Linked DNA regions of Homo sapiens: region 1 is linked to region 2. Evidence: fine-mapped expression QTL. A gene starts in region 2. The other region holds a variant in brackets. All regions are shown on one strand. Distances are from middle to middle. Region 1 holds the start of LOC124903392 (a long non-coding RNA gene). Region 2 holds the start of CKB (creatine kinase B).

Region 1 (5,473 bases), 29 kb before region 2:
TTGGCCACACGTGAGGATTCTTATCACTTATACTGGCAACAGCATTAACCAGGCTCCTAGTGTATCCTCGTGTTGCGCTGAGGATTGAAGAATCCATCATGCCACCAGTGGCCATGGAGAAATTCCAGTTTAGTCAGAGAAGGGATGAGGGGAGTCAGCTGCGCCTGGTCTGTCTCAGGTGTGAATGTCTGGTGTCAGGTCAGGTGTCAAGTGCAAGCCGGAAAAAGACCAGTGGCTTAGGGAGGGGTCTCACTGGCCCTTCAAGGCTGGTTAGAAGTAGGACAGGAGACGGTGGGTGTGGCACCGGGAATCATGGCACTTTGGGAGGCTAAGGTGAGAGGACTGCTTGAGCCCAGGAGTTCAAGACCAGCCTGGGCAACACAGACCCCATCTCTACAAAAAAATCAATATAATTTTTTTTTTTTAAAGAAGAAACCCTGGAGTGGGCTGAGCTGGAACGAGGTGGCAGGGGCTGAGGGGCAGTGCCCTGGCAAGCTTGGCTCTTGATTCTGGGTACAAGCTGAGCCCTAATTGAAGGCCTCTTATATGCAGGTCTGGGGTCGCCCCTGCTGGTCAGGACATGTCTGAGGGCATCTTACAAAATGTTTTGGGTTCTTTTGTTTTTTTATTGAAACAGGGTCTTAATATGTTGCCCAGGCTGGTCTCGAACTCCTGGGCTCAAGCGATCCTCCTGCCTCAGCCTCCCAAAGTGCTGGGATGACAGACATGAGCTACTGCACTTGGCCTTGCTTTTCCATTTTGTGTAGTTATCATTGCACAGATTTTGGGGTGGGGGTGGGGGTCACCAGGCAGCCTTAGGACTCTGTGTCCCTAGTTCTAGGTCTCTTCAGCTTGTGCCCTTTTTTTATGCCAGTCACCAGCAGGCTATTTCAGGCTATTTCACCTATTTGCCCTCTTGGTCTTTCTAAAAGCACGGCTCTGCTCATATGGCTTTTCTGAATGAAAACCTTCAGTGGCCTCCACTATTTCACCCAGCCACGTCCCTGCGAGGCCCTGAGTGGTGTGGTCCAGGCTGCCCCAGCAGCCCCATCTCCACTGCCCAGCCATCTGTGCAAAATGTTCTATGTACATTTTAAGCTCTCAGCACCCCTTGAGGCAGGTTTTTCATACTATCTGTTTCATAGGTGATTCTGAGATTCAGGTGGTCCCTTGCCCAGGGAACTGCCCAGAGTCACTTGGCAAAGGAGGGAAGGACAATTTGGTTACAGTTCATGAGTCATGGACTTACCTGGAGAGTTGAAGAAATGGCTGGTGCTTGGGGCCCACCCCAGCGATTCTGGTTTCATCGGGATAGGGTACAGTCTGGACATCAGGATTTCTGAAAGCTCCCACCTCAGGGAATGCTGGCCAAGTGGCTAAAAGCAGGCTGGGGCCCAGACTGCTAGGTTCACATCTCAGCTGTGCCACTTTCTCTCTCTTTTTTTTTTTCTGTCGCCCAAGCTGGAGTGCAATGGCACAATCTCGGCTCACTGCAACCTCTGCCTCTTGGGTTCAAGCAATTCTCCTGCCTCGGCCTCCCAAGTAGCTGGCACTACAGGCGTGCGCCACCACGCCCAGCTGATTTTTCTATTTTTAGTGGAGACACGGTTTCACCATGTTGCCAGGAGGGTCTCCATCTCTTGACCTCGTTATCTGCCCACCTCAGCCTCCCAAAGTGCCAGGATTACAGGTGTGAGCCACCGTGACCGGCGAGCTGTGCCACTTTCAAAGCTGAGCCCTTGAGCTTCAGTTTCTTCTGAAAGGTGGGCAGTACTTAGCACTTAGGTTTAAAGGATTCAGCTGGTTAATGTGAAACATTCAGCTCCAGTATTATGTCTCAAAGTCACTGTGTCAGTGAACCGGCATCCCTCATCGTGGAAAGACTGTCTTAAACGAGTGCTTTATTCTGTCCGTACGTCTTCCACTTGTGAATTACAACTGCAAAAATGTATCTTTCTATAGTAAGGTTGAAGTGAAGTGAAGCTATTTCCCCGCTTCGGATTCTTTGGTCTTTCCGGAGCTGCCAGGGGTCTGTGACCCCATTTGGTAAGGACTCAGTGCCGCACACTGCCTCTCCATCTCTGGTCCCCGCTGCGGTCACAGCGAATGGTAGGTTTTCAGTGTGTGTTAGAACCCTTTCAGTCTCGAGCCGTTTCCCTGTGGCTGCATTTTCAGATGAATGTTGCCAGTTCCCCACCTTCTGTCTCCATCTCACACTGGTGTCTGCCCCACCTCAGTCCTCTGTGGGTGTTGGGACATGGAGCTGGGTGGTTCTGAGTGCTGAGCGGAGAGTAAGGTCATCAGATGACTTTGCTGTTCATGGCCCTGGGTTCTGGTGCTCTCATCCGAAGCCCTCCCTGCCCATCCCTTGGGCCGTGGAGCGTTTCTTCTGTTCCTGTACCCTATTAATAGCTCTCCTAACACAGTGGCTCACCTGTCTCTCCCATGCCAGGCCACAGTGCCTTTCAAGGCAAGATCTGTCTCTTCATCCATGCAGCCTCAGGTCCTGGCAGTAATGGGCACTCACATGCCTTTTGGATGAGCTGTTCTTTGGAAATAGTGTCCTTAGCTCCTGGCATGTAATAGGCATTCGGCGAATACTTGCTGAATAAATGAGTGGAAAAATCTCAGATCTTCAGACAGCTTCAGAGAGTGTTTAAAATCCTTCTGCTTATCGGATCCAAAGGACCTTCTCTCTGCTGCACCTTCCACCGGGGCTCTGGGGTGGCCAATCAGGATCTCTCACCTGAGGCCACCTCATCCCCCTGAGAGCCCGGGTGGAATCAAAAGTGCCTCCTACTCGGTCCCTGGGGCAGGAGGGCCAGCAGGCCAGAGCGGGTCACACCCTGCTGTAGAGAAGCAAGGCCTCTCCAATTCCAGAGCCCTTGGCTGGCCACCCAGCCACAGAGGCCAGGCAGGCTGGAGCCTCTGAAGATGAGGGGTGGGGATGTTGGCTTCTGTCTCTGAAATTCGTCTGCTCGTGCTTGTGATGCCGAAATGAGCAGTTAGCTCTGTGATTCCTGAGCCTGGGCCGACCTCCATGTCCTCGGTGCTGTTGGAAAGGACCAGGGAGGGGCAGTGTCAGGGCCACCGCGTGCCTAGTGTGCCCTTCAGACCGATTTGACATGAAGAGGAATCTTCCTGGCTGCTGGGTGAGGTACTTGAAGGAAACCCACTAACCCATGGGGTGAGGAGGACTGAGGGAGGGTAGCTGAGCCTTGGGGTGGAGTCTCCATTTAACTAGCATCTGCCGAGTACCTGTGAGGTGCTGGGGGCAAAGGCGTGGACCTGGGGCAAGGGCCCCTGCAGAGGTCACGTGGCTTTCTGAGGGATCCATCGCAAG[A/G]AGCATTGGCCGGATGTGATGGGGTGGTTGAGAAGCCCAGGGAGGCTTCCTGGCGGAGGTGGGAGGTTAGCTGGTCACGGACAAGAAGTGGAACGTGACAGGAAGTGCAGGAGTTCGTCTCTTCCCAGGCAAGACCGTAGTGGTGAACACACTGTTCCAGTCGGCGGGCTGGGAGCTTCATCAGAGTGAGAGTGCTGGCAGCCACCACTGCTGCTGGAGCCGGGAGGGCCAGGCAGGGCCAGCCAAGCTGGACCACGAGCTGCTGCGGCAGGGCTGGGGCCTGAGAGTCCTCCGAGGGACAGGAGGCAGGTCCGCTCTCCACAGGGTGAGGGAGAGAAGGGGACCTGAGAGCGTCGGGGTAGGGCCTAGGAGCTGCACTTCAGCCATGAGGAGGGGCAGCCGTGGATGGTTTTTAGCCTGGGGAGTGACGGGCCATGCTTCCCTTTGGGACGGCCCCAGCAGGACAGTGCCTCGCCAGTCCACATGAGCCAGCGGCCGCTGTGCCATGCCTGCTCTTCCAGGCCGCCTCCACCCCCACAGCCGCGCCCCTGACTCTCGTCCCTTGTGGACATCGGCCCTTCCGACAGCTTGTGTGTGCCCCGTGATGCCCCCCCCCCATCCCCACCTAGCACTGTTCCAGGTGGGCGGGCATCCACTCAGCCTCTCCCTGGTGCTCACCCAACTCCCTCCCAGACAGAAATGAGACCAGCCGAGACACTCTGTGGGAGGCTGTCCATGAGCCCCAGAGCCCCAGGAGGGCCCTCCAGGCTGGTCCCACCAGCCCAGGGTGCAGCACCGCCTGGGGTGAGGTGGCGGCTGCAGGTGGCTGGCAGTTCAGATACTGGAGCTCCCAGTGGGAGGGATGGCTAGCCACTCACCCAGAACCTTCCCGGAATGGGGGAGGAGAGAGCCCACTTGTGGCAGCATCAACAGGATTTTGAGAACACAGTTCTGGAGCTGAAGGCCTGCAGCGAGCCTGGTGCAGGATGAGGCGTCAGACCTGGGCCCCTCCCAGGCCGCTGGGTTCCAGTGCTCCCGACAGGCCCTCTGTGCCCAACAAGCCTCACCCTGGTCATGAGGGGCCCAGGGCAGGTTTTCTTTTCAGGCTGAGAACTGGGCCTCTGGGCCTGGTGAGGGGCAGTGGCCCAGTGGTGGCCACCTCCCAAGGCTCCTCTGTGGAGTAGGACACCCCTGCCAGGAAGGGCCGGTGTCCCAGCCCAGCCCTGGGGTGGGGAGCAGAGCCTCTCCCTAGGAGCCTGGGCTTCAAGCCTTCTCTCCCCACCCAGCCAGCCTGGTGGGGGAAGGAACCACCTCGGATTTGATTGAGGAAGACGTTTTTTTTTCTTTTTCTTTCTTTATTTAAAGGGCTTTCCAGTAAAAATCGGAAAACCTGCTAGTCAAATTCTAGAAGAGCTGTGACACTGGAAAAGACATTTTTGTAGCTAAGTTCATGAACAAATTCACACGCTCCACACTGCCGCCTTCTCGGCCTCCCTTTCCCCAGCCGATCTCCATCACCTGCCCCTGCCCTCAAAGCACCGAGTCCCCCAGGGCCTGTGCCTCAGGGCAGCTGCCAGGACTGCCAGTCCCCACCAGGGGCTGTCTCCCTCCCTGGGGGACACGCTCAGAGCTGCACTGGCTGGGGAGGCTCTGGGCGGAAGGGTGGAGAGACAAAGAGGTCTTTGTGTCCCTCTGGCTGGATGGGAGGACAGACAGGTCAGCCAAGGCTGTGTGACTGGTGAGGCCCACCCAAGGTCCCAGACTCCTGCCACCACCTACCTGGGGCCCTGACATGTGCAAGACATCTCTGTGTGCCTCAGTTTCCCGGCTGCGAGGTGGGGTCAGGCCACGCACCAGCCTGCCTCCCCACCTGGCTTCCCGCCCGGCGTCACCAGCCCTCACAGCTTCATGTTCCTGCGGTTTACCACTTTGGTGTCTTTCCTGGCCCCTTCCCCACGGGCACGTGAACTCGCCGCATCCCCAGTGCTTTCACAGACTGGTGAGGGCTGGGAAGGGCAGACCCACAGAGGGCCATAGCCGTGTGGGGTGGGGCACCCAGGACTGCTGCGTGGACCAGGAGGGAGGAAGAAGACCAGAAGCCGTGTCCTGGCAGCTCGGAGGCCCTGCGCC
Region 2 (5,222 bases):
GCCCTCTGGATCTCATATCTGCAGTTCTGACCTTGCCTGTGGAGGGAAAGTGTAGGGGAAAGAAAGAGATCAGACTGCTACTGTGTCTATGTAGAAAGAAGTGGACATAAGAAACTCCATTTTGTTCTGTACTAAGAAAAATTCTTCTGCCTTGAGATGCTGTTAATCTGTAACCCTAGCCCCAACCCTGTGCTCGCAGAAACATGTGCTGTGTTGACTCAAGGTTTAATGGGTTTAGGGCTGTGCAGGACGTGCTGTGTTAAAATGTGTTTGCAGGCAGTGTGCTTGGTGAAAGCCATCGCCATTCTCCAGTCTTGAGTACCCAGGGACACGATGCACTGCGGAAGGCCGCAGGGACCTCTGCCCAAGAAAGCCTGGGTGTTGTCCAAGGTTTCCCCCGACTGAGACAGCCTGAGATATGGCCTCGTGACAAGGGAAAAACCTGACCATCCCCCAGCCCAACACCCGTAAAGGGTCTGTGCTGAGGAGGATTAGTGAAAGAGGAAGGCCTCTTTGCAGTTGAGATAGGAGGAAAGCATCTATCTCCTGCTCCTCCCTGGGAATGGAATGTCTCGGTGTAAAACCCGATTGTACATTCTATTTACTGAGATACGAGAAAACTGCCTTATGGCTGGAGGTGAGACATGCTGGCGGCAATACCGCTCTTTACTGCACTGAGATGTTTGTGTAAAGTCAGACATAAATCTGGCCTACGTGCACATCCAGGCACAGCACCTTTCCTTAAACTTATTTATGACACAGAGACCTTTGCTCACATGTTTTCCTGCTGACCCTCTCCCCACCATTACCCTAAAGTCCTGCCACATCCCCCTCACTGAAATAGTAGAAATAGTGATCAATAAATACTGAAGGAACTCAGAGACCAGTGCCGGCGCGGGTCCTCCATATGCTGGCACCAGTTCCCTGGGCCCACTGTTCTTTCGCTATACTTTGTCTCTGTGTCTTATTTCTTTTCTCAGTCTCATCCCACCTGACGAGAAATAACCACAGGTGTTGGGGGGAGGGGCTGCCCCCTTCAGGAAAGGGGAAAGGGGGTCCTTTCCCATGGGGGACCTGGGAAGCAGGTTAGGCTCTCAGCCAGGAGGGTGAGAGAGGGGAGGGTTGGCCTTCTGAGAAGCTGCAGTTGCTGAAGACAGAGGAAGTCCTGAGTGTGGCCCCCAAGTCTCTCCCTCCCCCCAAGTCTGCCTCCAGGGGCTGCAGCTATCCCTTCCAGAAACAGAAACTTAAGCCCTTCAGGTTTTGTGGGGTAGCAGGTGGGCAGCTGCAGAAATTTCTAAAACTGGGCGAAGAGGCTGCACGGGGCACAGAGTGCAGGAATTCCAGGCTTAAGGGACACCTGCTGTCTGGCCAGCCCAGAGGGGCCGTTTGCCTTTTTACATGGGTTGGTTTTATTAAGTCTAAAAAATGCTGGCTTGGAACAGGACGAAGCATGCCAAGGAGCAAAGAGGCATGTGTCTCCTCTGCAGTGACCATGGGGATGAGACAGGAGAAAAGGCCCCCACACCGATGCTCACATAGGCAGAGGCGAACAGGCTTCCCCTGCCTTTGGGCCTTGGCTCTGGTGCCTTCTGCTCTGAGGCACCTATTCGGGGTCCCTTATACCTGGAACGCCACTGCTCTGTGTCCCCCTGGCCCCAGCAGCACCGATCTGATGTCATCTGGTTTGTTGGGCTGCTGGCTCATGGCCAGTCTTCTTCCAGCAGCAGGCGCTGTGTACCTCGCTGCCTGCTGTATCCCCAGCGGCTGGCACCTGTTAGGTGCTCATTGTGCCACTGCTGGAGGGATTTGTATCAAATATACCCACAGATAAGAGTTCCCCCCTTCTTTGCTTTATTCACAGAGCAACAGATGAGGGTCCCTGATGGATATTAACCCCACATCCTCCACTTCCCCCTCTTAACAGCTGCATAATATTCCACAGCAAGCAGATGCCTCCCTACCCTTGGCCACTCCCGCCTGATGGGGCATCGGGTTGTATCCAGTTATGTTTGTTTTTCCCTCCACAGATCTCTTGGTCCATTAGTGGAGAGAACTGAGACATCCTTTCTAAGGGCTGCATTCCTAGAAGGGGAGATTGCTGGGTCACGGAGTTCGAACATTGTTAACGTTAATAGATTCTGCCAAATTATCTTGCAAAAAGCATGCAGCAATTTAAGTTGCAGGCAGCGTGTGGACGCCTGTCTTCCCGCATTCCAGCTCAAAGCCAGCAATGGCTGGGGTCGATCTGGGAGTGTTGGGGGTAGGGGCAGGTGGAGTCACTGCTTAATTTGCATGATTCTGGTTATTCGTGAGATCAGTTTTTTTTTTTAATCGCACTTATGCTTATTGTTTATTAGCGTTTCCTCCCATCTTTGCCTGAAGTCTCCGGGGACTGCCTTTGGGGGTCGGGTAAACTTGTCCCCTGCGAAGAGGGCCCAGGGTTGGGGTCTGGAAACTCCGAGGCTGCACTTGCCAGCGGCCTCTTAAGGCCACAGCGTCCCCGTGGTTTCTGGCTCGCAGCCCCCCGAGACCCAGGACTTGTCCAAGGTCAGGGCACCGCGGGTGCCCCCGGGCTGGGCCGCAGCCAGACTGCGCTTCCCGCGCGCCTTCGCTTTGCACCAGGATCGCCCAGGAAACGCCTGCGGGCACCTTGAGGAAGGTCGGCGGCTCCGGGCCAGCTCGCACTGGCCGGGGGTGGGGCGGGGGCCGTACCTGCTGCGGAAGCCCCGAAAGCTTTCGCCCGGCCCCTCGCCGCCGCCGCGGGGGCTGGCTGGACTAGGCGGGCAGGCTCGAGGATGCGGATGAACCCAAGCGTCCTCGAGTGCCCGGAGGCTCTCCGCCTCAGTTTCCCGCCCAGAGGCAAGGGCGTGCGAGGGGATCCAGATATCCAAGGACCTGAGGTTTCGGCCTCGAGGTCTTGGGCGGGGGACTGGGCAGGCTGCGCGGGGTCCCAGCGAGGGGACAGCTCGGGTGGGCGGCCAGGGTGTTGGGGGCTGCGGGCGGCGGACAAAGCGGCGGCACCACCCCGCGGCGCGGGCCAATGGAATGAATGGGCTATAAATAGCCGCCAATGGGCGGCCCGCGTTGTGCCCCTTAAGAGCCGCGGGAGCGCGGAGCGGCCGCTGTTCGCCTGCGTCGCTCCGGGAGCTGCCGACGGACGGAGCGCCCCCGCCCCCGCCCGGCCGCCCGGTGAGTGGGCCCGGGGGCCGGGGGCGTCCGCGCCCGGGCTAGGGGCGCTGCGTGCAAAGGGGGCGCGTCGCCTGGAGCGCGCGCCGGACCGGCCGGGGGTCCCCGGCGATGATGGCGCTCCCCGCGCGCGCTGCGGACCCCGCTGACCTTGGCCGCGTCCCGGGGGGCGCCGGGGGGCCCGGCGGCGGGGGCCTGAGTGGTACGCGGGAGCCCGGGAACCCCGGCGTGCCGGTCCCCTCTGACCCCGCGTCTCCCCGCAGCCCGCCGCCGCCATGCCCTTCTCCAACAGCCACAACGCACTGAAGCTGCGCTTCCCGGCCGAGGACGAGTTCCCCGACCTGAGCGCCCACAACAACCACATGGCCAAGGTGCTGACCCCCGAGCTGTACGCGGAGCTGCGCGCCAAGAGCACGCCGAGCGGCTTCACGCTGGACGACGTCATCCAGACAGGCGTGGACAACCCGGGTACGCGACCCCTCGGGGCCGGGGTCCCGGCCCCCCCTCCCCCCGCGCAGCCGCAGGGTCCTCAGCAGCGCGCTCGGGCCCGGCAGTGACGTCACTGTCCCCGTCCCGCGCCCCCTCCCCCAGGCCACCCGTACATCATGACCGTGGGCTGCGTGGCGGGCGACGAGGAGTCCTACGAAGTGTTCAAGGATCTCTTCGACCCCATCATCGAGGACCGGCACGGCGGCTACAAGCCCAGCGATGAGCACAAGACCGACCTCAACCCCGACAACCTGCAGGTGCGGGGCTGCGGGCGGGCCGGGCGGGCGGGGCCGGGGTCTTCGGGCGCTCACTCCCGTCTCGCCTCCCAGGGCGGCGACGACCTGGACCCCAACTACGTGCTGAGCTCGCGGGTGCGCACGGGCCGCAGCATCCGTGGCTTCTGCCTCCCCCCGCACTGCAGCCGCGGGGAGCGCCGCGCCATCGAGAAGCTCGCGGTGGAAGGTAGGGGCCGGGCGGGCCGAGGGGCGGCGGCGGCCGCGTCCCCCTCCCGGCGCGGTCCCCGCCCGCTTTTGTTTACGTCGCCCGGGAGCGGCAGCCGCCGTCGCGCTCTTATCTGCGCGCGCCCGGGTTCAGTTTCCCGGAGGGACCGAGGGACGGAGGCCCAGCCCCGCGCCCACAGCGGCCTGGGGCCCAGGGAGGGCGGGTCCTGGCGCGGGGTCACCGCCTGGGACCGTCGCCCGGGCCGTGAGGACTGGACGCCCGCAGATCCGGGCGGGTGGGGCCCTCTGACGTCCCCCGAGGTGGGGCACGGGGGCGGGCGGGTCCGCGCTGCGGGCTGGAGGGGCGGGCGCGGGAGCCGAGCGTCCTGAGCGCACCCCTCGCAGCCCTGTCCAGCCTGGACGGCGACCTGGCGGGCCGATACTACGCGCTCAAGAGCATGACGGAGGCGGAGCAGCAGCAGCTCATCGACGACCACTTCCTCTTCGACAAGCCCGTGTCGCCCCTGCTGCTGGCCTCGGGCATGGCCCGCGACTGGCCCGACGCCCGCGGTATCTGGTGCGTGTCCCTCTGCGCCCTCTCGCGGCGTCCTCCCTCCCCGCTACCTCCGCTTTCCCTCTCGCCCCCCTCGCGGGGGTGGGGCCCCTCGCGGCGAGGAGGAGGAGGAGGAGGAGGGAGGGGCCGGCCGCGCTCCGGGTCTGGGTTCCGTGCCGCGCCTCCTCCTGCGCCGGTGACCTTGGCCGAGCAGGTGCGTTAAGGGACTGGGCCCCGGCCCGTGGGGGCTCAGGACTCAGCAACACCTCCCCACCCCGAGACGTGAGGTGGGGGCGGGGCTCTCTGGCGCCTCTCCCCGACGGCCCTGGGAGCTGGAGCTCTTTGTTTTCTTTTCTCACTCCTCCGCCGCTGGGATTCTACCAGGGGCTGGTGACGCCAAAGCTTCTCCAGGGGCAGGGCTCCTACCCCCACTGTGGGGGGCGGGTCGGGCTGTCCTGGCGGTCCCTGGCCCCGCCCCACCTCAGGCCACAGCGCATGATGGCAGCTGGGGTTCTCCTGCTGTGAGGCGTCCCGGTTCCCCCGCCCGCCCCGTG

What was found. PIP is the estimated chance that this variant, and not a neighbour inherited with it, causes the effect.
Region 1: its variant is fine-mapped to the expression of CKB in whole blood (INTERVAL, PIP 0.91).

The regions. Positions count from the first base shown.
Region 1 is chr14:103,549,639-103,555,111 of GRCh38, reverse strand. It overlaps LOC124903392 (a long non-coding RNA gene), which reads left to right and starts at 1,631. Exons shown (of 2, transcript XR_007064357.1): 1 at 1,631-3,157; 2 at 3,472-5,473. It also overlaps the pseudogene RNU7-160P. The variant A/G (reference allele first, on the strand shown) is at 3,344.
Region 2 is chr14:103,520,733-103,525,954 of GRCh38, reverse strand. It overlaps CKB (creatine kinase B), which reads left to right and starts at 3,125. Exons shown (of 8, transcript NM_001823.5): 1 at 3,125-3,189; 2 at 3,450-3,654; 3 at 3,778-3,932; 4 at 4,005-4,137; 5 at 4,521-4,692. The coding sequence starts at 3,462. RefSeq lists enhancers at 1,998-2,883, 4,660-5,222 and silencers at 4,247-4,296, 4,437-4,506, 4,517-4,886.